2 separate regions of the Homo sapiens genome follow, and region 1 is linked to region 2. The links come from fine-mapping of genetic effects on gene expression. A gene starts in region 2. The other region holds a variant in brackets. All regions are shown on one strand. Distances are from middle to middle. Region 1 overlaps CFAP210 (cilia and flagella associated protein 210). Region 2 holds the start of KLHL23 (kelch like family member 23).

The links. PIP is the estimated chance that this variant, and not a neighbour inherited with it, causes the effect.
Region 1: its variant is the best candidate, but not a certain one, in a credible set for the expression of KLHL23 in whole blood (TOPMed, PIP 0.70).

What each region holds. Positions count from the first base shown.
Region 1 is chr2:169,636,670-169,653,182 of GRCh38, forward strand. It overlaps CFAP210 (cilia and flagella associated protein 210), which reads right to left. Exons shown (of 9, transcript NM_001085447.2): 7 at 13,660-13,852; 8 at 12,513-12,677; 9 at 8,756-9,513. The coding sequence ends at 9,172. PPIG (peptidylprolyl isomerase G) reads left to right here. Exons shown (of 14, transcript NM_004792.3): 14 at 1-4,737. The coding sequence ends at 854. Among named protein-coding and RNA genes, the nearest start is that of CFAP210, 49 kb to the right of the region's middle. RefSeq lists a silencer at 10,976-11,176. The variant A/G (reference allele first, on the strand shown) is at 9,409.
Region 2 is chr2:169,726,027-169,737,974 of GRCh38, forward strand. KLHL23 (kelch like family member 23) reads left to right here and starts at 7,806. Exons shown (of 4, transcript NM_144711.6): 1 at 7,806-8,061; 2 at 8,987-10,201. The coding sequence starts at 8,989. The region is part of intron 3 of PHOSPHO2-KLHL23 (PHOSPHO2-KLHL23 readthrough); the gene reads left to right. LOC124900531 (small nucleolar RNA SNORA51) reads left to right here and starts at 1,846; the gene lies at 1,846-1,977. RefSeq lists silencers at 7,677-8,116, 8,137-8,206, 8,317-8,496.

The sequences.
Region 1 (16,513 bases), 87 kb before region 2:
AAGAAAGAGATTCAAAACATAATAGAAATGAAGAAAAGAGGATGAGGTCAAGGAGTAAAGGAAGGGATCATGAAAATGTTAAAGAAAAAGAAAAGCAGTCTGATTCTAAAGGAAAAGATCAGGAAAGGAGTAGAAGTAAAGAGAAGTCTAAACAGTTAGAATCAAAGAGTAATGAGCATGATCACAGTAAAAGTAAGGAAAAGGATAGACGCGCACAATCCAGGAGTAGAGAATGTGATATAACTAAAGGTAAACACAGTTATAATAGCAGAACAAGAGAACGAAGCAGAAGTAGGGACAGAAGCAGAAGAGTGCGATCAAGAACCCATGACAGAGATCGCAGCAGAAGCAAGGAGTACCATAGATACAGAGAACAGGAATACAGGAGAAGAGGACGGTCACGAAGCCGAGAGAGAAGAACACCACCAGGAAGATCAAGAAGTAAAGATAGGAGGAGAAGGAGGAGAGACTCACGGAGCTCAGAGAGAGAAGAAAGTCAAAGCAGAAACAAAGACAAATACAGAAACCAAGAGAGTAAGAGCTCACACAGAAAAGAAAATTCTGAGAGTGAGAAAAGAATGTACTCTAAAAGTCGTGATCATAATAGCTCAAATAACAGCAGGGAAAAAAAGGCTGATAGAGATCAAAGTCCCTTCTCAAAAATAAAACAAAGCAGTCAGGACAATGAATTAAAGTCCTCCATGTTGAAAAATAAGGAGGATGAGAAGATCAGATCCTCAGTGGAAAAAGAAAACCAAAAATCAAAAGGTCAAGAAAATGACCATGTACATGAAAAAAATAAAAAATTTGATCATGAATCAAGCCCTGGAACAGATGAAGACAAAAGCGGATGAGTGAGTTATATAAACTTACTTCCATTCTGTTTCGGATTTTAAGTTTGAGAGACTTGCTAATGAATCTCCTTTATGTTGTTTTCCTTTTCATTGTTTTTGGATTGTTTTATGTTTGTCCTTTTTTTTCTTAATGTGGATTTCATTGAGTTGATTTTTTGATAATCTGCAATCTGGATAATTTGTACTGCTAAAGTTTTAATAAACTCGACATGAGAAAAACACTTTGGTGTAGTACTGTGTGCTGTGTTTAACTATTTTATGTATGCATTACTGTGTTGCAACAATTAGCCAATAGCATCCTAATTTGTTTAGTCAGCCATTTGGAATGGTTGCAATGCATTGTTGCAAAAGCTTGTGTTTCTCATGATTAAAGTAACTTTAGAAGCCACTAGAAGACATCTTGTATAGATTTTCTGATTGCGTTATAAATAGAGGTTTGCAGCGGTTTCTTTTAATTACACAGAAGCAGGGTCCTAATAACCTGAGATCTTAAATCATCACTTTTGATTTTATAGTAATTTGTGCTTTAAAATAGATGTATTTATATTGCACTTCATACTCTATTCTTTATAGTTCGAGCCATAGCTTGTTTCCTATTAATGCTTTTCCTGTCTAGTTGTGTTTTACTTAACTGCCTATAAAAATCGTAAGAGTAATTTTTTTCAGTTGATGTACTGATTGAGCTTGAGTTGCTGTTATACAGCATTTGACAGGAACTATACCTTGGAAAATCAGATTGTGATTCTCAGTTCTGTGTTGCTTTTGGTTTGAAGAGTTTTGGGAACGTTTTAATTATTAATTACCCTTCTCTAAACTTTAAAAAAAAAAAAGCTTTTCTCATTAAAACATACCATTTGTGCAGGTCCTTAAGCTATACAGATTCTAAAAATTGTTAGTATTGAGACATTAACTTCTAAGATTTCTCTTTTTTGGCCTCCAACCTATATAGAATTGAGTGTTAACTCTGCATGGATTTTGTTTGTTTTAATTGAACTGACTTCTCTAACTCTCATAGCTGTGAGTTCCAAATGGCAAGAAAATGCATCTTTTCTATATATGTATCACGATAGGCTATAGCATGTTTATGACTCTGGTTTCTTTCTCTTCAGGTGGTTTTATACCATTACTGTTAATGTTATTTTAACTTGGCATGTATAACATTGCCATATAGAGTAGAGTAGAAAGTTGCAAATTTTGATAGTTTACAGAGTTAAACACTAAACATATCCAAAGTCCATTTAGAGTTTTGGGTGTTGTATTTTGCCATTTTTGTGATGTGTGGCCTTTTATTCTGTAATCTCTTCTAAATAAAACATTGAACATCCAGCAAACATAAAACCTGCCTCATTTGAAAAGGAATTTCAAAATTCCAATTAATAGGATTCTCTAGAGAGTTTTGTACTTTAATATTTGTCAGTGTAGTGTCAACTCTGTTACCAAGGTAGCTTCTTGGTAAATCCAGTAGCTACTCAATGCTATTTGTACTGAATAAAGCAATTATTAACATGATACTTCCCACTATTGATTAATGCAATATTGATATATTTGGCGTTGTGGTAGCTGTTGCAGAATGAATAGTGTAATGACCATAAGATTGCTTGGAAAATTGTAATACAGATATCCACAATGAATTCTTTCCAAAATTTTTTTTTCCGATGATAAAAGTAGTAGATGTTTATTATAAAATCCAAGGTGATTGATTCCTTAGAGACTGACCACAAACCCACATTAGGGATAATTGAGTCTGAGTGCCCAAGCTATATAACGTTATGTAGTTTAAGCAAGTTATTGTTTGTCTTAATTTCAGTTAACTGCATTTTAAAATTGTTGTTATAAACTATTTGAGCTTTAAGAAAGGTGCTATTTAAGAAAGGATTTCTAATAACAGTTAAATATTTTTTTTAAGTCCATGCTAAGTAAAAATTCTTACATGTTGTCTGATCCCAGAGCTTTATCTACTAAAAATTATACATAAGGATTTCCAAATCTTAGAGTTTCAAAAAGTAACCATAGGGAAAAAAATTGTAGTAATTTCTATAGGCAATATTCTGTTTGGGTTATCAAAAGAGCAACTCCATGCTCCGCATTATTTATAGTCCTTATTTTAAAGTTTTATTAGCTCTCTTTACAGAACAGATGTGAAGGAGTTGAGAGGACAATCAACTAGATTTTATTTTTAGAATATAAAGAACATTTTTAAAATGATTAAACAGCATTAACTGTACCTCAGGATCTGCGCATGCATCTGAATAGCACACGGCTCAAATGGTCCTTTCCTTTTGTTACATTTAGTAGTTGTGCCATCTTTAGTTTTTGCTTTGAACATTGTTTTCCTAAAAGTCAACTATTACTTTCCCATCAAGTTGGTTTTATAGTTATGTCTAAATTTATGGTTCATGTCAAAGTATTTTTGACTTAATATCCTTTTAAAAATATTTAAACTGATTTATTGCTCAATTGGTGATAGCTGAGAAAATTTTTTCAATATGTAGAATTTTCATGGTTATTTTGTATGAATTATTTTTCTGGGTAAGCCATCTGCCACAGAAATTGACACTATGGTGAGATTAATGTTAATGAAATGAGCAGTAGAGAAGCTACTGGATTGCTTTAAAACATTCTTTGATTAAATTACTACATAGTTGGTAAGTTCATAGTTTTAAGTTACTTAATTGAAGCCCTCAGAAGTTGCAAAGAATTTATCTGATAAATCTGCCTTTGCACAAATGTGATACTGATGCATGGACGGCTTTGCGGAATGACCTTTGATATTTGTGCCTAGTGGAAGGTATGGAGCTAAACAATTAAAGAACTCTTCATTATGGATAGGCACATATTGGATCTCTGGTATTTTGGGTAGTGGTATTAACTTGACAATTCTAATTTATTTTAGTTAGTATATGTAGCAAGTTAGTATGTTTGTTAGTAGTTTATTGTACTTCATTCCAGTTGGTAATATAGTTTTCATCACACTAAACTTTTTATACTAAATTTCTGTAGAAGCTTGTTGGGTTTGCCTTCACCAGAAGGTACTTTAAATACCTACCATAGCTGATTTGTTATAAAGAAACAAAATGGGTGTTCTTCTGTTTCCTTTTGATTATGTTTACTGTAATTATTTCATTTTGGATTTATACATTTACAATTGAATAAGGATTATAGGTTGATAAGCTGTTTATTGTGAAAAGATGTGTTTTGTTACAAATACTTGTTTTAAAAATTAATAAGCCCCCAGGAAGTACAGCATTGACTGGCACAACTGCCCATAGTGAGCTTCCCAACTAACTGCCTTCAGTGGATTCGGGCAAGTGCAAAGTCTTTGGCCTATTGTGTGACAAAGAGGTATATATTAAAGGAAAAGAAAAATGACATGAATAAGAAAATTCCGTCAACAAGGTTGGAGTAGGGAGTTGTTGAGGGGTTTAGTTTGTTTTAAAAGGTATGTGAGGGAGTGGTGGGGTGGATTTGTGTTTCTGACTTTTTTTCTTTAAGCAAATTCCATATGTTACCAAAAGCACATGCTGTATATTTTCTTCCCCTTTTGTGTGTATATAGTATTTTGAAAGATAAATGAATTGGGTATTTGTATGTGGGATGTACAAAATTGTGGCCGCTCTCTTTGTGGAAGGAAAAAACATAAATGAAGTTAATGCACTTCTTTTCCTAGCCCAAAAGTCACTGTGATTATATTTTTTTAATGAAGTTTAGAAAAAAAGCTGTTGTCTTCTCAATTGTAAAATTAGTTTCAAAATGCTGCTTCTCTTATCATTAGTCTAGTAATTGTTGAACTTTTCTGCAAACTGCATTTTACAAAATTGAAACTTGGAAGCTGTATTAACTTTTATAGTTAAACATTGTATTAAATAAACTATACTATAATAAACAGTTTGGTTTTGTATTTTTTAAATTGTATTATCCAGCCTTTTAAAAATTAAAAGCTAAATAATGAAAATAAACCAATTAAAACATACTTTTACTCTCAGATATACAGGTATTTACATTATGAAAAAACTGAACAAAGTTTTAACAATACTGAGCTTTAAGAATTTAGCCAGCAGGGAAAATTTCCAGGTTTGAGAATGTTCTAATGTAAATATTTAATCATAATACTTCAGATTGTAGTGTGTCTTTTGCCCAGCAAACTTTCAAGGTTAAGCTCGGAATTTGTATTACTGTCTACTAGATCACTACCATTTGCTTCTTAAGTCCTCCGCATTTTTTTCAGCATTAGGATCACTGTAATAGATCCTGTGCCTATAACAGAGTGGTGAAGTCATGTAAACATAAATGTTAATTGAATTCTGTAAAACATTACCTAGTTTGGGGGCTGTTTTTTCTTACATTAGACATGTAGGGAAAATGCACTTAGTTGAGAGTGCGTCATTGAAAATATATGCCTAGTTATACTGAATATTGACAATGAAAGGTATATACCTAGGTAAAAACCTTCTGAACATTCAGTAGTTTGTATGTGTTAACACGTGAATATTATTAAACTCCCAAAATCTGGAGTGTTCTTAAAAGCTTTATCCAAGAAAATGTATAAAATGCAAGTGCAACAAATGAACTGCAAACTGTGCATTAAAATAACTTCAGGCATCAATTCGCTTTTTCTATTTACTTCCTAGGTTTCTTTCCTAAACATATTTCCTTACCTGATAACTTTGTTATCATAATTTTGTTTCATAATTTTTACATTTCCCCACTCCCATCAAAGTCCTCTCAGTAATCAGAATGCCTTGTTCCAATTTATGTCTTTGCCACAGATTTTATCTATGAGTTTCTCTTATCAAATTAGCAGATTAGAGTAGTTGCGTTTCCACTGCTGTGCTTCAGTTCTTTTCATTGAATTATTTTGTGATTAACATTGTGTAGCCTTACCTTTCTTCTCAGTATACTCTAGTAGAAAGCCCAGCCCAATTTAAAGTAAAATAAATTGTATATATAAGGCAGAAAAACTAGTAATGTCTGGTGTTTTATGTTATCCTTCACTCAAACTAAGTTGGTTGTATAACACTTTTATGTAATTAACCGTTACGTAGAAACTTATTTCCTGTTTTATAATATGGGGGAAGATAGCTGTCTAAAATTACTAATTACCACTATATATTGTATTTATGTAATTTAAAGGAAAGGATATATGGCAGAAGTTCCCAGACTTTCTTGGTTCACTTTACCTGTGTCTCAGTAATTTTAACATGGTGTTATCCCTGCGCCAGAATAAATACCTAACAGATCGGTTTATTAAAAGGCCAGGAGCACACCTATAATCCCATAACTGGGAGGCTGAGGCAGGAGGATTGCTTGAGTCCAAGAGCTTGAGGCTGCAGTGAGTTGTGATTGTGCCACTGCACTCCAACCTGGGCCACAGAGTGAGACCCAGTCTCTAATAAAAAATAAATAAAAAGTTCACATAGCTAAAGTATATCTAACAACTTAGCCATTTGAAATTTTAAAAAATATTTTTACAGTTCCATTCTTAACCACAATTAGTTACTAATGGAATGTGTGCAAATGTTGGTCACAGCACAACTTCTCAAACCTCAAAATCAGATCACACACCATCCTCTACTATAATACATTGATTTTGTGCAATATATGAGTTTTATCCCATCAGCTGCTGAAAATTCAGCTTTACAAACAGGATATCATCAAAAGGCACAGTGCATTTAATATGTTGAACTACCTCAAGCTAGTCTTACAGATGTCAGGTAATTTGTTTCAAAAATTTGTGAGTTCACTGTGGTTCCTCAGTATGCCTTGGCACACAATTTGGCAATCAGTAGATAGTGTTGTTTTAAATAACCAGCTATTTTACTCCTTTAAAACAGTTCATTTTTTAAAACCCGAGGTCCATAAACCCACAAACAGTAACTCAGAATGATGGTTGCCTACAGAATCTGCCATTTTAAAAAAGTACAACCCAGGTATACTAAGCCACAATCTTAGATGTATGTTAGTCACTGTGCTGTGCAGTCTATTAGAGGGCATTGTGGAAGTCCTTAAAACTGTATGCACAATTGTAGAGTATATGTGTATGTGTACCTTACTGCTGAAAAAGCCACTAAGTTTTATCAGATTCCAAGAGGCTCATGACATAAGTAATGTTTGCTCTAAGATTTGGTCTCTTATAGAATGATACACTGAACAATTTACACCTTTACCCAGCATTCCCCTGTGTAGGAATCTATCTCAAAGGTTAACTGACAAAAATATGAAAAAAAAAAAAAAAAAAGGCAGCTGTTAATTACAGAATTTATAATAGCTGAAGACTGGAAACCACACAAATATCTATTGGTATGCCACTGGTTGAATAAACGGGTACACCCTTGCAAGAGAATACTATGTCAGTTGGAAAAGAAGATATTTATATCTGCTGTGTTGTGTCTCTAAGCTATATTAAGTGAAAAGAACGAAGTTATTTTGTGTAAGTAAAATATATGTGTATTTGCTTTTAAAGAGAAATAAGCAAAGGATACAACAGTGAAATGGCAACCTAAGGAAGGAAAAGTATTTGCAAATCATTTATCTGAAAAGGGATCAATCTAGAATACATAATAACTACAACTCAACAACAAAACAAATAACATGAAAAAAATGGGCAAAGGACTTGGAACAGATATTTCTCCAAAGATGATAGACAAATGGCCAGCAAGCATATGAAAAAACGTTCAACGTCACTAATCCTTAGGGAATGCAAATCAAAATCACAATGAGATATCATCTCACAGCCACTCAGGATGTCTACTGTCAAAAAAACATGTTGGTGAGGATGTGCACCTTGTGCACTGTTGGAAATGTAAAAGGGTTCAGCTGCTATGGAGAAAAGTATGAGTTTCTAAAAATTTAGAATTATATGATTCAGCAATTCTACTTCTGGGTATATATCCAAAAGAATGGAAAGGATCTTAGAGCTATTTGTACGTCCATGTTTAAAGCAGCATTATTCACAATAGCCAAGAGGTGGAAGCAACCCAAGTGTCCATTCATGAAGGAATGAATAAACAAAATGTGATATACATACAATGGAGTATTCAGCTTTAAAAAGGAAGAAAACTGACATAAACTACAACATGGATGAACCTTGAGGACCGTACACTAAATGAAATAGTCACAAAAGGACCTATACTGTAGTGGTCAAAATTCACAGAAACAGAATGGTGTTTCCCAGTAGCTGAGGGGAGGGGGAAATGGAGACTAGTTGTTTTATACAGAGTTTCAATTGTGCAAGATGAAAAAATTCTGCAGATTGTTCAGCAATATGAAGATACTTAACACTATTGAACGATATACTTAGAAATGGTTAAGACATTAAATTAGGTGTTCTGTGTTTTTTACCTAAGAAATGAAAAAAAAAATTAAACAGTGGGGGAATGCAGTTCACAAAATCACACAAAATTCAGTGGTACTAAGTACATTCACAGTATCGTGTAGTCATGACCATTATCTAGTTCCAGAAGTTTTTGGTGCTCCACCTGGAAACCCCCTACTCATGAAGCAGTCACTCCCCATTCCCCTTCCCCACAGCCCCTGGTAACTGCTAATCTGCTTTGTCTCTTTGGAAACAAGTTTTGTTGTCTAAAGTTGGCAAAACTACATGTAGAATTATTTTAAGTGACCTCAAAACATGATAATGTGTACATGTCTAGTAAGATATACTCTATAAAATAAACCACAAAGAAGTCTTCATTCAATAATCCTATTGTTAGTGTAATAATGCTGGTAATGTTATCTGATACTAACTGCTGAAGGACAAAGCAAATAAGCATATGAATTTCTGCTGAAGAGAAATATATCAAGGAGAATATTATTCAGCCATAAACCAAAATGAGGCACTGATAAATGGCACAACATGAATGAACCTTGAAAATATGCTAAGTGAAATAAGCCAGACACAAGGCCACAGTATGATTCTGTTTATTCAAAATACCCAGTATAGGCAAAGCAGATAAAGTTACCAGGAGCTGTGGGGAAGGGGAATGGGGAGTGACTGCTTAATGAATGGGTATGGGGTTTCTAGTAAGAGCACTGAAAAATTCTGGAACTACACAATGGTCATGGCTACACAATATTTTGAATGTACTTAATACCACTGAATGTACATTTAAAAAGTAAACTTGTGTATTTTACCACAGTTAAAAAAAGGAATCTCAAAATTGGGGTTTTATATATACCCAAAAGAAATACTGAGAACAATCAATTAAATCAGACATAATTGTACTTAGATGAAGAACAGCTTTATTAACTGAAATCCATTTATATTTGAAGCTCATATATGCTACAACTTAGTCTTCTCAATGTTAAAAATAATTTTTTTCTACCATGTAAAACCTAGCCTTCTCTTTGACTTTTGAAAATTATATTTTGGTCCCTGAGAGTTATAAAAAGGGAGCTGGACTCCAGTAACATCATTTGCCTGATAGCTGGGTCTTAATCCACCTCTGTCCACAAACACTGGTCCACGGCCACCTCCAGGTCCTTCCTGTACAGCTTTTACAAGAGGGTAAATATATTTATTTGTTGTTTCCGATTCAAGTTCAATTACCTCTCTGGC[A/G]TAGTCCTGAAATTCTTTCTCCTTTTCAGCCACAAGAGCTTCAGTAAGTCTGCAATAATCTAATTCTGCTTGTTTTGCTTGCTTTGCATTAAACTTATTTTTGGCCTATTTGGGAAAGAAAGGAAATTTAACTTAATATTGGTTAAGAACATGAACTTTCTAAATATACATAGCATTTGAAAATGTAGGTATAATTTTCTAAACTCATTGATACTTTACAAGTTCTGATTTAACAACTATATACTATCATTTATTTCAGAATCTTTCCTATCATGCTCAAAGTGGTGGTGCAATGAAACCTTTATTAATAGCCTTATGTGATACATTTGCAAATAGCACAGTGAAATAGCGAAAATTATGAAATTTAGATAAAACTCAGGTAACTGAGTTTAGAGTCCTGTTTCAATCACAAGATGTGAACTTTGGTGGTTTAGAATGCACACCCACCATTGTCTCTAACCATCCACTATTCTGGAGGAATTCACTCAACTCTACTGTGCTGGGTCAGCCCAATATACTATGTCCCCAGCCACATAAGATTAAATCAGCAGTGAATATCTGGACTAAAACCATTTACATTATCTATTTCCCGAAAATTTAAAATTGGAACAGTGAGTGACATTTATCAATGTAGGTTGAGAAGGCACTGAGTGGAATAAGTAGGCAATTTGCCAAAAGCCAATTTACCAATATTTTATACAAATTTTGTCGTTTAATTCTTTATATTAATTTACATTGGATGAGATTCTTTTTATGGCTTTTCTGTGATGCTCTGGTTGGCAACTTCTCATTTTGTATTCTCTGTGGCATTTTAAGAAATGTTGAGTTTATTTTTTAAAATAACAGTTACTTTGACTACTTAGGAATATATTTAATATTCATAAAAATATTTCTCAAAATCCAAAATGTTGGCATAAAATAGTAACCCAAACCTGATATCTATCATAAATTTAAATTTTTGATGGAATAGAGCAACCATATTAGTGTGAAATATCAAATTTTTCATTATTGAGTGCTACAATTCAAAATTCAGTTTACATACTATTTGTGAAATTGGGGATAAAATGCCAGAGTTTTAAAAAGTAGAAAATGACAATAAGATTGGAGAAAAAGTCAAAAAAAAGCTAAAATCGATCTCTAATCGAAGGTAAAATGCTAATATTTGGGAACTTAATAAGCAGCAATTTGGATATGTTTAGTAAATGTAGAAAAATATTGAGGGAACAGAAAGAACCACTTGAAGCACAGAAAGGAAGTGACAATGGAAGGAAAGAATTACTATAATGGAACATATGATTGGTACCTCACATTTGATATGCATTAAGCATAAATATATAAAGAAAAAGTTCCAAAAAATTAAGTTTAAAATCCTAAAAAACGCTAACAGATGAAGGTAAAGTACCTTCGAAGTACATTTGGAAGATAATAGCTAATTAACTGTCTGAAAACTGGAAAATAAGGCAAAAAAAATCAAGTATTCTGTTTTTTTCTTTAAAAATTGTACCTAAGAGGAACCAAGTATTTGATCAAGAAAACTTCTTAAAGACTTCAACAAGTAAATCAGAAGGATTCCAAATACTGATCTTATTTGATCGTGATTGAAACAACAAACTATTTTGGCACCTGGCCAAAAATTTAAAACTTTTATACATCAAAGATACTATCAATGGAGTAAAAAGGTAACTCATGGGATGGAAGAAGACATTTCCAAATCATGTATCTGATAAGAGATTTAATACACAGAGTATTTTTAAAACTTCTAAAACCCAACAACAAAAAATCCAATTCAAAAATGGAGGCCGGGCACAGTGGCTCATGCGTAGTCGTAGCACTTTGGGAGGCCGAAGCCAAGGTGGGCACTTCAGGTCAGGAGTTCGAGACCAGCCTGGACAACATGGTGAAACCCCATCTCTACTAAAAATACAAAAATTAGCCCAGCGTGGTGGTGGGCACCTGTAATCCCAGCTACTTGGGAGGCTGAGGCAGGAGAATTGCTTGAACCCTGGAGGCAGAGGTTGCACTGAGCCGAGAGTGGGTATCATGCCACTGCACTCCAGCCTGGGCAACAGAGCAAAACTCTGTCTCAAAAAAAAAAAAAAAAAAAAAAAAAAAAGTGAAAACCAAACAGAAAAGGACAAATATTGTCTGATTCCATTTATGAGGTACCTAGAATAATCAAATCCATTGAGATAGTAAAACAGAGGTTACTCAGACTGGAGAAAAGAGGGGATAGGGAGTTACTGTTTAACATGTACAGAGTTTTAGTACAGGATGATGAAAAACCCTGGAGATGTATAGTGGCCATGATCAATGTGAATGTACTCAATGCCTCTGAACTGTACACTTAACCATGCTTAAAATGGTACTTTTTATGTTATGTATATTTTACCACAATAAAAATCAATTTTAAAAAACTCAGCACTAAGAAAACAACCCAATTAAAAATTGGCAACACTCTTAAATAGACACTTCACAAAAGAAGGTATGCAGATGGCTAGCAAGGATGTGAAAAAAATGTCCATTATCTTTGGTCATTAGAGAAATGTAAAATAAAGCCATAAGATATCACTATACTAGAATAGTTAAAATTAAGGGATGACTATCAAGTGTTGATGAGTATGTGGAGTAAGTTGTGCTTGCATACATTGCTGGTAGGAATGGAAAATGGTACAACCATTTCAAAAACAGGTTTTAGTTACAAATGATTGGATGCTAGGTCCTCTACACATCTTTTAAAATCTGATATCTCCATTCCTCAAATCTGAAACCTATGAGATCGCAATCAACATAGTCTCTGAGATATGGGAAAAAAGTAAAACAAGATGAACATTATGGCCTCCACATGCATTTGTATTTTCTTTAATATTTACTGAAGTATAATAGACACTAAAGAAGGATAAACATTCATTTAAAAGATAAAACTCACATGGGAACTTCACTGGAGATAGAAACAAACCTCACATTTTTAATACATTTTATTGTGTCATAACCATAATGACCATTTTTTTCTTACCTGATGAAACTGCTTGGGAGTAGAAAACTAGCATGAATTCTGTATTATATACTTATTACTAACATAATTATAAACATTCAGGAGTAATTACCATTTGCTGAATATGGGCATCTTGAACCTCTTGATGTTCTTTATCAGCTTTGCATTTTTTCTCCTTTTCATGTTCCCAGAAAATCTGATCTGCTTTCATGACAGCCAGCAATTGTTCTTTAGCCTCTATTTTTCTTTGTCTTTCTTCTTCCTCTTTATTTTTCATCTAGATGTTTAAAGGCAAAGGAAACATATAAAACCAGTTATAGCAACCAGTCTTGTCTGAAAAGGCACAGAGTCAGAGAGTTGAAGCAGAGGAGAGTCAGCCAGGAGCAATGCAGGAGCAGAAAAGTGCATGCACCTGGGGTGGTTCCCATGCGGCCAGTTTACTTTGGTTTTGTTCTATTTCCTGAATATCAGAAAATACCCAAGTGCTATAGGACAATCCTTATTGGCTTGAAAAAGATGAAAAGCAAGATCTTCTCAAGGAAGGGAAATATATGTAAGTAAAAAATTAATTGCTCCAGCCATACTTGGTGGCTCAACACCTGTAATCTCAGCACTTTGGGAGGCCGAGGTGGGCGGATCACCTCGGGAGGTCAGGAGTTCGAGACCAGCCTGACCAACATGGAGAAACGCTGTCTCTACTAAAAATACAAAATTAGCCAGTCATGGTGGCGCATGCCTGTAATCTCAGCTACTCTGGAGACTGAGGCAGGAGAATTGCTTGAACCCAGGAGGCGAAGGTTGAGGTGAGCTGAGATCGCACCACTGCACTCTAGCCTGGGCAAAACTCTGTCTCAAAAAAAAAAAAATTGCTCCAATGTGTATAAACTATCCAAATTAAATGTTATGACAGTCATGTAAGATATGTTTTAAAATATTAAGAAACAGAAATGTATAATTTTTACATGGTTTGTCTTTAAAACCTACAAATGAAAAGTATAACAAATAACCTTTGCGTTTCAGATGGTTCTGAAACAGAAGAGATTATTACTTTGCATCTATAAATATCTTTTTTGTAACTGTCGTGTCATCTTTGTTAGGAAGTAAACATTGTCCAATTTCAAAAATACAGGAAGATAATTCATACATTGTTTTTAATATCTTGGCTAGTTTTTGGTTAGAGAGGCAGATGAGATGGAAAACACAGTGGAAAGGTCCTAACTCTGTCTTTCTATTTTTATTTTCATAATTGAATTGTTTACCACAATGGCTCGATATTCTGCAATTGTTTTTAATTCTGCTTTGTTTTTTTCATCTTTTTCTCTTTCTCTTTTTTCCCATTCAGCCTCAGCTTCTGCAATATCTCTAGCAATAATCATATCTTCATTGTCAAGTTTCTCTTTCAACAGTTCACTCAGGAAGTTATGTATTCTTTCTCTTCGTTTCTCCATAAGCCTATAACAAAATAACCATACTCGTCAAATCTTCATGAACACATGTCCAATGGAGCCAACATAATTTAATTAGGGAATCTGAGATATTTTGCAGTCTCTTACAAAACTAACAGGAGCCCCATTGCTCCTTACATATATTATTTTAAGTGGACATTATTTTTTAACTATAAAGTAACATATATTCTAAAATCCAAAGACAGTAATATGTATAATCTGTGTGTGTGTGTGTGTGTGTGTGTGTGTGTGTGTGTTTAAGAAATAAGATCTTAAAATTATCTACACTGAAAAATATTTTAGGCCAGGTGTGGTAGCTCATGCCTGTAATCCCAACACTTTGGGAGGCTGAGGTGGTAGGATCGCTTGAGCCCAGGAGTTAAGAGACCAGCCTGGGCAAGATGGCAAGACCCCATCTCCACAAATTTTTTAAGCTGGGCGTGGTGGCTCATACCTGTAATCCCAGCACTTTGGGAGGCTGAGGCGAGCACATCACGAGGTCAGGAGTTCGAGACTAGCCTGACCAACATGGTGAAACCCTGTCTCCACTAAAAATACAAAAATTAGCCGGGCGTGGTGGCAGGCGCCTGTAATCCCAGCTACTCAGGAGGCTGAGGCATGAGAATCGCTTGAACCTAGGAGGCGTAGGTTGCAGTCAGCCGAGATCACACCACTGCACTCCAGCCTGGGCGACAGAGCAAGACTCTGTCTGAAAAAAAAAAAAAAAAAATTTAGCCAAGCGCAGTGGCACGGACCTGTAGTCCCAGCTACTCAGGAGGCTGAGGCAGGAGGACTGCTTGAGCCCAGGGGTTCAAGGTGGCAGTGAGCTATGTACCACTGTACTCCAGCCTGAGTGACAGAGTGAGACTCTATTAAAAAAAAAGAAAAAAAATTTTTTTTGAGACTGAGTCTCACTGTCACCCAGGCTGGAGTGCAGTGGCACAATCTTGGCTCACTGCAACCTCCACCTCCTGGGTTCAAGCGATTCTCCTGCCTCAGCCCAGCTAGTTTTTTTATTTTTAGTAGAGAGGGAGTTTCACCATGTACCCAGGCTGGTCTTGAACTCTTGACCTCAAGTGATCCGCCCGCCTCAGCCTCCCAAAATGCTGGGATTACAGGTGTGAGCCACTGCACCTGGCCACAGAAAATATTTCAATATTTTATCAGACTACCCTGCTTACTCTATCATTGGAGGCTGAGGCTATAAAAGGCCTTTATTTAAATAAAATCAAGGAAATAATCTAATAAAAGTTATCAAAATCCTAAATATCCATCCCCTCACAATACTCTGTCTGGAATTTATTCACAGCACTTTTTTAACTTGATCTGTTTAAATTTCTCCCTTTACACTATAAGGTTCCTTTTTTTTTTTTTTTTTTAAGAGACAGGATTTTGCTATGCTGGCCAGGCTGGTCTCAAACTCCTGGCCTCAAGCAATCCTCCTACTTTGGCCTCTCAAATTCACTATGAGATTCCTCAGGTCAGAAATTGAATGGGTCCTCTCTCTAGTTAAGAGCCTAAGCATGTGCCTGGTACATCATAAGAATACATCTTGTTAAATTAGGGCATTTTTATTTATGAAATTGCATAAAAAATAATTTTGTTGTGACAAATTCACTTAGTGAATTGGCAAAGCAGCATGTGAGAAATGATGAGAAAGGATACAGTGCATACTCCAAGGAAATTACAATTTAAAGTGGAGAAAAGACATTTATGCAAATGTCTTTATAGTTATAGAAGACAAAAGATAATAAATGCCATGAGAAAGCTAGAAAATGATATGGACAAATGAGAAAAAAAGAAAGCCTTCAGAGAAAAGGTGACATTTCTGGTAGAATTCCAAAAAATAGTATTTTAAACAGTTTTATTGATTGCTTACTATGCTCCTGACACTATTCCCGGTGCTGGGGACAGACATAACAGTGAACAAAAACATTAGAAGTTGGGCATGGTGGTGCGCACCTTTAGTCCCAACTACTCAAGAGGCTAAGATAGAAGGATCCCTTGAGGCTATGAGGTTGAGGCTACAGGGCACTGTGATCACGCCTGTGAATGGTCATTGTCCTCCACCCTGGGCAACATAGCAAGACCTCATCTCTAAAAAAAAGTTTTAATAAAAATAAAAATCTCTGCCCTCATGGGGCTTTCATGATTGCTGGAGGAGAGGGACAGTAAACAAAATAAATAGTTTTAAAAAATAGCCGGGCGCAGTGGCTCACGCCTGTAATCCCAGCACTTTGGGAGGCCGAGGCGGGCGGATCACGAGGTCAGGAGATCGAGACCATCCTGGCTAACACGGTGAAACCCCGTCTCTACTAAAAATTACAAAAAAAAAACTAGCCGGGCCTGGTGGCGGGCTCCTGTAGTCCCAACTACTTGGGAGGCTGAGGCAGGAGAATGGCGTGAACCCGGGAGGTGGAGCTTGCAGTAAGCCGAGATCGCGCCACTGCACTCCAGCCTGGGCGACAGAGCAAGACTCCGTCTCAAAAAAAAAAAAAAAAAAAAAAAAAAAAAAATATATATATATATATATATATATATATATATATATATGTATGTGTGTATATATATGTATGTATATATATATAGTGCTATATATCAAGCAACGAGGGCGAGGAAAGCAGGTAAAGTGATAAGCAATTGGGGAGGGGGTATAATTTTAAATAAA
Region 2 (11,948 bases):
ACCTGGGAGGCTGAGGTGGGAGAATCAGGGAAAATCGCCCGAGGCTATAGTCGAGGCTGAAGTTAGCTGTAATCATGCCATTGCTCTCCAGCTTGGGTGAAAGAGAAAGACCCTTTCTTTAAAAACTCTTAAAAATAGAACTACCGTGTGATCCAGCAATCCTGCTGCTGGGTACTGCTGCTGGGTATATACCCAAAAGAAAGAAATCAGTACATTAAAGAGACATCTGCACTCTCATGTTTGTTGCACCATTGTTCACAATAGCCAAGATTTGGAAGTAACCTAAGTGTCTATCTATAGATGAATGGATAAAGAAAACATGGTACATATACACAATGAAGTACTATTCAGCTGTAAAAAAGAACGAGATCCTGTCATTCGCAGCAACATGGATAGAACTGGAATGTCATTATATTAAGTGAAATAAGCCAGGCACAGAAAGACAAACATCACATGTTCTCACTTATTTGTGGGAGCTAAAAATTAAAACAATTGAGATAGAAAGTAGAAGGAAGTTTACCAGGGGCTGGGAAGGGTAGTGGGGGACTGTGGGGATGTTTAATTGGTACAAAAACTAGTTTAAAAGAATAAATAGGACCTAGTATTTGCTAGCACAACAGGGTGACTATAGCCAATAATAATTATACATTTTCAAATAACTAAAAGAGTATAATTGGATTGTTTGTAACACAAAGGATAGATGCTTGAGGTGATGGATACCCCATTTACCATGATGTGATTATTACACATTGCATGTCTGCATCAAAGTATCTCACGTACCCTATAAATATATACACGTACTATGAACCCACAAAAATTTTAAAAAGGCAGGGTGCAGTGGCTCATGCCTGTAATCCCAGCACTCTCGGAGGCCGAAGTGGGAGGATCACTGGAGGTCACATGTTCGAGACCAGCCTGACCAACATGGCAAAACCCTATCTCTACTAAAATACAACAATTAGCTGGGTGTGGTGGCATGTACCTGTAATCCCAGCTACTCGGGAGGCCTAGGCAGGAGAATCACTTGAACCTGGGAGGCAGAGGTTGCAGTGAGCTGATATCACACCATTGTACTCCAGCCTGGGTGACAGAGCAAGACTCTGTCTCAAAAAAAAAAAAAAGAAAATTAAAAAAAAAAATCCTAATGGAGGTGAGAGAGCCAGTCCTGTAGTGGTAGCTGGGAAAAGAGCAGTCCAGGCGAAAGGAATAGCTAGTAGCAAAGCCCGGAGAAAGCCCTGAGGCACCGCCTCCTGGTGAGAGGCAAAGCAGAGCTGGATGTGGGGATCCAGGAGCCTGTTATAAGTACTCTGGCTTTTACTGAATGAGCCAGGAAGTCTTTGGCGAGCTTTAATCTCTGACTTATAGAATAATATCAGTCTTTCTTGGGTTAGTTGAGCCAATGCTCTTACTTGTATTCTTTCTCCATCGCTTATAATGGAAAAAGCCCTAGTTTATTATCCTTCTGTCTTGTATTAATTTTATCTGGGATTGAGCTCTGTGGCACAGAAACATATTCTCAAATAAACTGCTATCTTTTAAATAGTAATAATACTCCCTCAAACAGTAATAGGCTAATTCCTGTTTTGGGACCAGATCAGTGGTCTTTCAAATCTAATAAGTTTGAAAAACTATGTACTCACTTCCATATTTTTAAATCGATATTGGAAACTTTTCATCACAAGTTTAAATATTTGCCAAGGTTGTAATTTCTAACATGTTATAAATAATGACTGTTAAATAATACTTTTAAATCTATTTAGTAAAAACTAAATATAGCCGTTCAAAACCACTGTCATTCATTTAAAAATACATAAACAAGTTGTTCTTTAAAAGTGGGAAATTTTTGGCTTCCTAGTACTTACCATGGTCTGTGTTCTTACGCTGACTGTATAGAAACAGGAGGCAGAGTAAACCGACCCCACATATACCTCAGCCCAGGCCCTGTGCTGCGTCTGTATTGTGAATCAGGAGACATGGAGTTCAGAAAAAAAAACTATTGGAAGTTTTTATTTTCTCATTTTTAAAATTTAGTTCTCAGTCTTCTTTCTTCTTGAGTTCGTACTTCCATTCTACTTCTCTTAGAGAAGGTTGTCCCACTGAAAATACAGGCAGTCCTCACTTTGCACAATAATACAGGACCTTCAAAATAACTGTACAAGTTGAAAATGTATAATGTGATCTAAATAATCAATGGGAAAAATTATGATTGTCCTATGACCTTTACATTTTTTTGTCACAACATTATGAACTCTCTTACTATTCGTTAAAATGTATAGGGAAATAAAGAACATGGTAAGACTGATATTTACTTAGTATACTGCAATTTAAAACATTAGAAACATTGATAAAGTGTTATGTTTCTTTGTAAACACTTAACAATAGTAGTTCGCTTAGTTTCTTGCCTTCTTGTCATAAAACTTATGATTTGGCGTACTCATCTTTCTACGCCTTGATGGACTGTCATAGTTTTACGTTTGGATCAACTTCCAATGTGTTATCCTTTGCATTTTCGATGTGGTGAAATATCTCCAAGAGTTCCTTTAATGTGAAGTTTTTTGCCAGGATCACTTCCTTTGAGACATAAGGTGACTCACTTATGTCATGAGTTCACCTGCACTAAGTTCCCTGGCTGCATATCTGAATTCTCTCCAATGGTGGTAGTGTAAACATTCCCATGGTCAGCTATTTCCTCTATAACCTCATTGTGTTCATTTCACTTTTTTTTTGTTGATTTTTTTAGACGGAGTTTTGCTCTTGTCACCCAGGCCGAAGTGCAATGGCACAATCTTGGCTCACTGCAACCTCCGCCTCCCAGGTTCAAGTGATTCTCCTGCCTCAGTCTCTGAGTAGCTGGGATTACAGGCACCCACCACTACGCCTGGCTAGTTTTTGTATTTTTAGTAGACACAGGGTTTCACCATGTTGGCCAGGCTGGTCTCGAACTCCTGACCTCAGGTGATCCGCCTACCTTGGCCTCCCAAAGTGCTGGAATTACAGGCGTAAGCCACCATGCCCAGCCATTTCACATTTTATTTGCGGTATTGTCACTTTTTATTTCCATGCCATACTTTCATCCTTGTTGGTCAATACCCTTTCTCAATCACCCATTTTTGTAAAATGTCACATGGGTTTTTTACTAGCAGACAAGGAGACAATGCAACTGCAAGCCTTACTGTCTGTATGTGAACTGACAGATGCACAGAGATCAATCACTGACAGACTTTGAAAGAAGATACATGATTGGTCACTGATCAGGATGCGCATTTGTTAATGTAGTAATTCATGGACCTGAGGAGCTAGCAGCAAATTTGTATTTTATGCAGTTACTCAGAGTTAATTTACTTCAGTAACTGAAATTTGAAACCTTGTTCTCAGGGGACAGGTGTTATTTAACTAAACCATGGTAACTAAAATTCATACATATTGGAACCATTCAAAGAAAGCATTTTTGGCCAGGCCAAAAAAAAGAAAGACTTTTCTGTATGGTTTTATACTGAATATCTTTTATTAATCTCTTAACCTTCTCTGTGACAAAAATGTGTATAAATTACAATTTGTATGTCCTTGATGGTTTTATATCTTTGGTTATTTTACAAATCCTGGTCTAATTAATATTATAATTATTATTATAATTAATTAAACATAAATATGTTTAAATCAAAAGTAAAAAATTATTAAAAATTATTTCAATCTGATGAATAGGGCTACTTTCATTTAGAGTATGAAGTCAAGTAGTGCTTACTGCTGGAATGAGACAGTATTTAGGTTCAATAATGTTCCTGCTTAACATTTCTATAGACATAATCGCTGAGAAAACATGTTCACAGAGACAAATAGGTAAGAATGAGATAAATTTTATCATAGTGGCCGGGCGCGATGGCTCATGCCTGTAATCCCAGCACTTCGGGAGGCTGAGACAGGTGGATCACCTGAGGTCAGGAGTTCAAGACCAGCCTAGCCAACATGGCAAAACCCCATCTCTACTAAAAATACAAAAATGAACTGGGCGTGGTAGCATGCACCTATAGTCCAGCTAATCAGGAGGCTGAGGGAGGAGAATCTCTTGAACCTGGGAGGCAGCAGTTGCAGTGAGCCAAGATTACACCATTGCACTCCAGCCTGGGTGACAGAGTAAGACTCCGTCTCAAAAAAAAAAAAACAAACAAAAAACCTTTTTTATAGTAATGCCATTCATTTTGTCATTCCCTCCAAATTATTTGCCAAAAATCCTCTTTCACTTTTGCTGGAAACCAGGAATTGGAAACCTGTGACTTGCAAAAGCATTTTTACCTAGTTATTAGAATGTTCACTTTCTTATTTTACAGGAAACATACCAAAAAAGGTTTTACCAAGACACATCGGCTGCAGGGCAGCCACAGATACCTGCGTTGGTTGTGTACTATACAACTCCTGAGAGCAGTGTTTACACTGTACTCTACTTAAGTTGCATGAGCTGGAATTGTGCAGTGCACAATTTGCAAAGCTGTATGTGGTAGCCTTATACATTTTACCTACTATTGTTTTTTATTTTGAGACGGAGTCTCACTCTGTCGCCCAGGCTGGAGTGCTATGGCGCAATCTTGGCTCACTGTAACCTCCGCCTCCCAGGTTCAAGAGATTCTCCTGCCTCAGCCTCCTGAGTGGCTGGGATTATAGGCGTATACCACCACACCTGGCTAATTTTTGTATTTTTAGTAGAGATGGGGTTTCACCATGTTGGTCAGGATGGTCTTAAACTCCTGACCTCATGATCTGCCTGCCTCGGTCTCCCAAAGTGCTGGGATTACAGGCGTGAGCCAATGGGCCTGGCCTTTTTTTTTTTTTTTTAACTTGGCAGCAACTTGTTTAATCCAGTATGTAAATGAAGTATACAAAATGTTCTATCTATGCCCATCATCTACACACATTGTTAATGATATCACAGCATATCAAACATTTAATGGCATGGCTGTACTTAGTGGAAAGATGTACTAATAAGGTAAAAATTATAAATAAAATCATTATTTTTAGAACTCGGAGTCCTTTGAAAGCTGAAGTGTGATGTCAATAAGTCATCTAACTCCATGCCAAGCTTAGTATCTGCCAAATCATTTATGTCTCATTTCCATGGCAGCACTTTATTTCTTTAAGACTTGGAACCACAGATGGCACATCTGTTTTCTTGAACGGTATCATTAATTTATTTGATTTATGAATGCTAATTATATGTTTCTGAATGCATCAAATCTATCAGCATTTGCAATGGTCTCTTTGATAAGCACATGGTAAAGAGGAACTATGCCAGGCAATACCCTTCAGGACCTGCTCTTCTCTTAGCAAAGTGAAGCAGTATAATAGTCTAATATGTAATATACACTGATATACACTTTTAAGTAGTAATTCACAACCAGGGAACATCACGAAATGAAAGCAAGAGTTTTAGTTGGTTCATGCAGCCATCTGAAATAACTGCATAAATGAGAATATAGTGAATTCTATTATTCATGAATCATTTATTATTACATGTAGTTATGATTCCAGAAGCCCTTACTCCAAGTTAGATGGAGCCTATATTTTTTTATACATCAAACTTGGCAAACAGTAATTATAGCTGCAAAAACAGCCATCTCTACACTTCAGTGACAAAAATGGAGAGAAGTCTCCTTCAATCAGTCACAATTGTGTCCTTGAATGGCAACAGTGACAACAGCATCACTATCAGTTATGAAGGGCAAGCTATAATTACTATTAACTATGAAGTTCATAATTTCTGAAGAAATGTTAAGAAGATGCTAATTTCCAAATTAAGGTTGTGATGCAGAATTAAGTGTAAATATTCTTTCATTATAGTAGCTAACATTTATATATCAAGTCCTAAGTGCTTCATTATTAATTTGTCTTTCCAATAACCTTAGGTTAGGTTGAGAAAGTATCCATGTTGTCTGTGTTTTACAGATCTGAAGACGAAGGATCAGAGAAGTTTAGTAATTTGTGAGAGGCTATATGTTGGATAAGTGGCAGAGATGAGCCTTAAGCCCGAAACTAAATCTCATATGCTTTCCTTTTCTAACTATACTGTTTACCAGATGTTGGGATGTTAAACTTTCATCCTTCTTCCTTTTGGGTCCAACACATTCTCTTATTTGTCCATAAGAATCACCTGCTGCCCTTGATTAGAATGCAGATCCCTAGGTCTCCACCCCGCAGACGTCTGTGCGTGGGGTGTGGTAGTTGTGGGGGCTGCATAACCAGCATCTTACATAATTCAATTAAGATGATCTGACTTGTGGAATTAAACTAAAACCCACCCACAGGAGAACCAACAGATGCTATTTATTCAGAGTTTGCTGTAGAAGGGAGTCCCACTCACCATCACTTTGTCAGAGGCTCAAAGGTGGGGCAGACGAGTGGGAAAGCTTTATAGAAGTGAAGAAAAGCCCCCGGTATGCTCTGATTGGAAGTTGTTGGCATGGGAAAGCTGCAGGTGGGCTACTAGAAGCGGGGGTATTTTATGTGATGGGTTTGCGGAACATATTTGGCTTTCTCTGGTTGGTGCAGAGGTGGAACTAGGGGTAAAAATAGGGAAGTTGCACTTTGGAAGTCCCAGGCAGGAAGATCGCTTGAGTCCAGGAGTTTGAGACCAGCCTGGGCAACATAGTGAGACCCTGTCATGAAAAAATATTTAAAATTTTTCAAAAATTGCACATCTGTAGTCGTAGGTACTTGGGAGGTTGAGGCAGAGGATCTCTTGAGACCAGGAGATCGAGGCTGCAGTGAGCTAAGATCGTGCGACTACATTCCAGGCTGGGCAACATAGCAAGACCCTGTCTCAAAAAAGAAAAAAAATAGGGAAATTGCCAGTCGTTGACTACTTCCTGACTGTTCTGGTTCAGCTGCTACCAAGGTTGTGGTCTGGCTTCCTGGGCTTCTTATGTGGTTCAGAGTTCTGTTGTCACATACTATCTGGCCATTCATGTATATTGCGTTTCTGAGACCATACTCTGGGAAACACATGGTCCTCTGGTGGTGGTGAAGGTCCCTGTGAGCTAGGGACCATCTGTCAACACTCTTATCACTACTAGTGTCTATCCCTATCAGGCACTAGAAGCACTTAATAAAATCTTGCGAATGAATGAATGAATGATATACAAAAATATTTGATACTGGCTTTAGTTGGAACAAGAAAATGAACTTTGTGTACCACATAGACATCTGTGACTAGAGTGGCCGTCACCAGAAAGGCTGCTCCTTCCAGCTGCTATGCTCTAAATACAATAACCTGAATCTTAGCACGACTGGACTTCGCCTGGACTTCGCCTTGGCCCCGGCTGCCCAAAGTTTCTCTCAAAGCTTCAGCTTAACCCCTGATGTGCTCACCAGCACCAAGGCGCCCTCCTGAGTGCTTTGCTGGGGGTGGGATGGCGTTTGTGGGAAAGGCCGGCTACTTCTGGCATTTCAACGGCGCCTCCAATCCCTGACCTTTAGTTGTGCCCCATTCTCTCCACTCTTTCCCCCTTCTCTGTCCTCACGATTGAGTCTGGGCTGGCGAAGCCTACTGAGGGAGGGGAGTGTACACACATGCACACGCGCGCGCGCGCACACACACACACACACACACACACTCATATATGGTGTTATTAATAATTCAGGACTCAGAGTTTATCTAAGAGAAGACGCTCGACCGGGTGTGAGAGAGCGCGCGGGACAGAGAGCGAGCCAAGGAAGGGGAAGGCGGCGGCGCGCGCTGTCTCCTGGGGAAGCAGTCCCACCTGCTGTGGGGGGCGCCGCTGGGGAGGGGCCGAGCCGTGCTCACGCCTGCACGCCCCGCCCCGCTCGCCGCACGGCCCGGCGACGGGGGAGTTCCCGCGAGTGGCCTCGCGCCCAGACCGTGCGGGGGGCTGTTCGGGTGGAGGCGGGGGAGCCGCCGGGACACCAAAATAGGAGCTGCTTGTGGGGTGGAGCGGCACTAGCTGGCGGCTTCCGAGCGCCTCTTCCAAAGATGGTCAGAGGGGCCGGAGGCGTCCCCGCTCCCGCTCGCTACTAGCCCGCGGGCCAGCGCCGCGTCCCGAGCCCCGGCGGGAGGTAGGTGCGGTGTGGACCCGCAGCCCGAGGCCGGCCTGCTGGGAGCGAGCGGGGCCGGGCGCGGGGAGCGGGGCCGGGCGCGGGCAGCGGGGCCGGGCGCGGGCAGCGAGGCCGCGCGGGAGAGGAGCGCAGACAATGGCCGCGCGGGCGCCGGGCCGGGCCGAACGCGTTGCGCTGGGGCTGCCTGCGGCGTCCTTCCCACACCTGCGCGGAGCGCCGGGCAGAGGGACGCGGGCACCGGGCCCGCGGGCGGCACGCGGCGCCCTCGAGTCCAGCCCCGCTCCTGGCCCCGGGGCGGGGCGGTCTCCGGGCGGGAACGTGGGCCGGGGCCCAGGCGCGGGGCGCGCGGAAACCCCTGCGGCGGGCGCGGGGGAGGGGGCGAGGGCTGCAAGGGCTGCGCCGAGCTGCCTTCCTTTCTCTCCTTCCTTAAGCGAAAGGGCTCGGGATTTCCCTTTTCCGAGACCTCTTCTTGTCCATTTATATTTCCATCATCCCTTTCTTGGCATTTCGATGTGATTTGAAAGGGAGACGAGCTTGGGGAAAAGGTTGAATTGGGGCCGAGCCGAGACAGCTGAGGTCCGGCCTCGAGTGGGGTGACCCTCGGACACTTGCCTTGCCTAGTGTGGGATCTCATCTCCGAACGCCAGGCCAGGGTAGATTGCGGTGAATGGAATAGCAAATCAGTACTCTCAAAAGGACTACTGAAAAATCCAGGAGCCTCATTTCAAGCTCCGAGCTACCCTGAATTTAAATTGACCACCATATAAATGATCAAACAGTCCATCCACATTTTGCATTTATTATTTAGATGCTGAACTTAGTCCAGTTTTGGAGTATATCCGATGATAGTCAAGTTATTTAGCGTTGATTATTTGAGAGAATGTGCAACATTGAAAACACATTTGTTATTTCATATTTATTGCAGCCATGGCTCTAAAAGGACAAGAAGATTATATTTATCTTTTCAAGGATTCAACACATCCAGTGGATTTTCTGGATGCATTCAGAACATTTTACTTGGATGGATTATTTACTGATATTACTCTTCAGTGTCCTTCAGGCATAATTTTCCATTGTCACCGAGCCGTTTTAGCTGCTTGCAGCAATTATTTTAAGGCAATGTTCACAGCTGACATGAAAGAAAAATTTAAAAATAAAATAAAACTCTCTGGCATCCACCATGATATTCTGGAAGGCCTTGTAAATTATGCATACACTTCCCAAATTGAAATAACTAAAAGAAATGTTCAAAGCCTGCTTGAGGCAGCGGATCTGCTACAGTTCCTTTCAGTAAAGAAGGCTTGTGAGCGGTTTTTGGTAAGGCACTTGGATATTGATAATTGTATTGGAATGCACTCCTTTGCAGAATTTCATGTGTGTCCAGAACTAGAGAAGGAATCTCGAAGAATTCTATGTTCAAAGTTTAAGGAAGTGTGGCAACAAGAAGAATTTCTGGAAATCAGCCTTGAAAAGTTTCTCTTTATCTTGTCCAGAAAGAATCTCAGTGTTTGGAAAGAAGAAGCTATCATAGAGCCAGTTATTAAGTGGACTGCTCATGATGTAGAAAATCGAATTGAATGCCTCTATAATCTACTGAGCTATATCAACATTGATATAGATCCAGTGTACTTAAAAACAGCCTTAGGCCTTCAAAGAAGCTGCCTGCTCACCGAAAATAAGATCCGCTCCCTAATATACAATGCCTTGAATCCCATGCATAAAGAGATTTCCCAGAGGTCCACAGCCACAATGTATATAATTGGAGGCTATTACTGGCATCCTTTATCAGAGGTTCACATATGGGATCCTTTGACAAATGTTTGGATTCAGGGAGCAGAAATACCAGATTATACCAGGGAGAGCTATGGTGTTACATGTTTAGGACCCAACATTTATGTAACTGGGGGCTACAGGACGGATAACATAGAAGCTCTTGACACAGTGTGGATCTATAACAGTGAAAGTGATGAATGGACAGAAGGTTTGCCAATGCTCAATGCCAGGTATTACCACTGTGCAGTCACCTTGGGTGGCTGTGTCTATGCTTTAGGTGGTTACAGAAAAGGGGCTCCAGCAGAAGAGGCTGAGTTCTATGATCCTTTAAAAGAGAAATGGATTCCTATTGCAAACATGATTAAAGGTAAGTGGAGATTATGTTTATTTTGTATTTTTTAGATGTCTGGAGCTAGGCCAGCAGTCTCACTTCTCTTGAATTTATCACTTTGGGATGCTATCTAGGAACTATAGTTAATTATACAAATAATGCTACACAGAATGTTCCAGATAAAAACAGTATAGCATAGTTCCCAACTTGTCTGAGAGTTATGAGAATTTATATTCAAGTCAAGGGCTAGATGAAGAGACAAATCTGGACAGTTTTTCATTTTTTCATGTTCTTAAAATTGAACCCTTTAAAATTCTGCTATTCAACTTTTTCCTCTCAAAATACGCTGATCAGCTCTCAAGAGGTCCTTCATTAAAACCTTGGAAGGTTTGGTCCCTACAGGATGTAACAAAGTACATTCTTCCAGGAACTAGAGACAACGTCTGCTTTTGCAATTCAGTCCTCTCTGAGAGGGGCAGACACCATACTCTCCCTCATGTGGCCCACAGAACCCGGCACACCCCTGGGTCTCGGTATCTGTCTGATAAACACTATTTTCTGCTGTGTTTGGCGATTTGTTTGCCTTGCTCTCCTTCTCTCCCACTGGAAAAAAAGTTAAACGGGAATCTTATTTCATTGTATTTATTCATTGGTGCTGAGGAGTTGTACAAAAACAACTGGTAGGTCGTTACCAAATTTGTATCATTTTGTCCCAAATGTTTCTTCCCAGGCTTTTCTGTTTCTTTTTTAATGCTAGTGAGAGTGTGGGAATTTGACCTGGTCTGGAAATCTGACCTGGTATGATCCTTGGATGACAGGCAGGAAGCTGAGAGGCAGAACAGTCTTGGGATCAGGCACGCTGCCTCTGAAGCTAAACTGCCTGCATCCAGATCCCTGCTTTCCTCTTACTTGCTGATGAGCTCTGGCAAATTGTTTAATCACCCTGTGCCCCCGTTTTGTCATCTGTATAATGGGGATGACAATATTACCTAGTCTCGGATCATTGAGAGGATTAAATTAATCTATGCTTGTGAAGTGCCTAGAACAGTGTCTGACACAGAGTAAGCATGCTATAAATGTTACGCATGATTGTCCTGAATGTCGGTATTGAAGGACATGTCAGCTCTTATAGAGCAGAAATTGATTTCATGTGAAGTTGTGACCACTGTCACACCAGGGTGGGAGAAGGTAGCAGAAAGCCCGGTGCTGTTGCTCCCCTGGTTTTTGTCTTTGCCTGAGTCTCACCACTACTTGCCGATTCCAGGAGGGCTCTGAATGTCCTGACCCCTCTTCTGCAAAAGAAATAAGAAAAGTCCATATATTTAAGGAGCTATTGTAAACTAGCATACATTTCTGATTCTGTTTTTTAAGGATGATATAACAGTTTCAATGGTTTTGTGGTTCAGAGTATATTTCTTTTTCTTTTTCTTTTTTTTTTTTTGAGATGGAGTCTCACTCTGTCTCCCAGGCTGGAATGCAGTGGCGTGATCTTGGCTCACTGCAACCTCTGCCTCCCGGGTTCAAGCAGTTCTCCTGCCTCAGCCTCCTGAGTAGCTGGGATTACAGGCATGTGCCACCACACCTAGGTAATTTTTGTATTTTTAGTAGAGACGGGGTTTCACCATGTTGGCCAGGCTGGTCTTGAACTCCTGACCTCAAGTGATCCCCCCACCTTGGCCTCCCAAAGTGCTGGGATTACAAGGGTGGGTTCAGAGTATATTTCTTTGAGAATGAAAGCTTATTACTTTACTGAAATTTTAAAAATTTATATTTAGAACAGTGC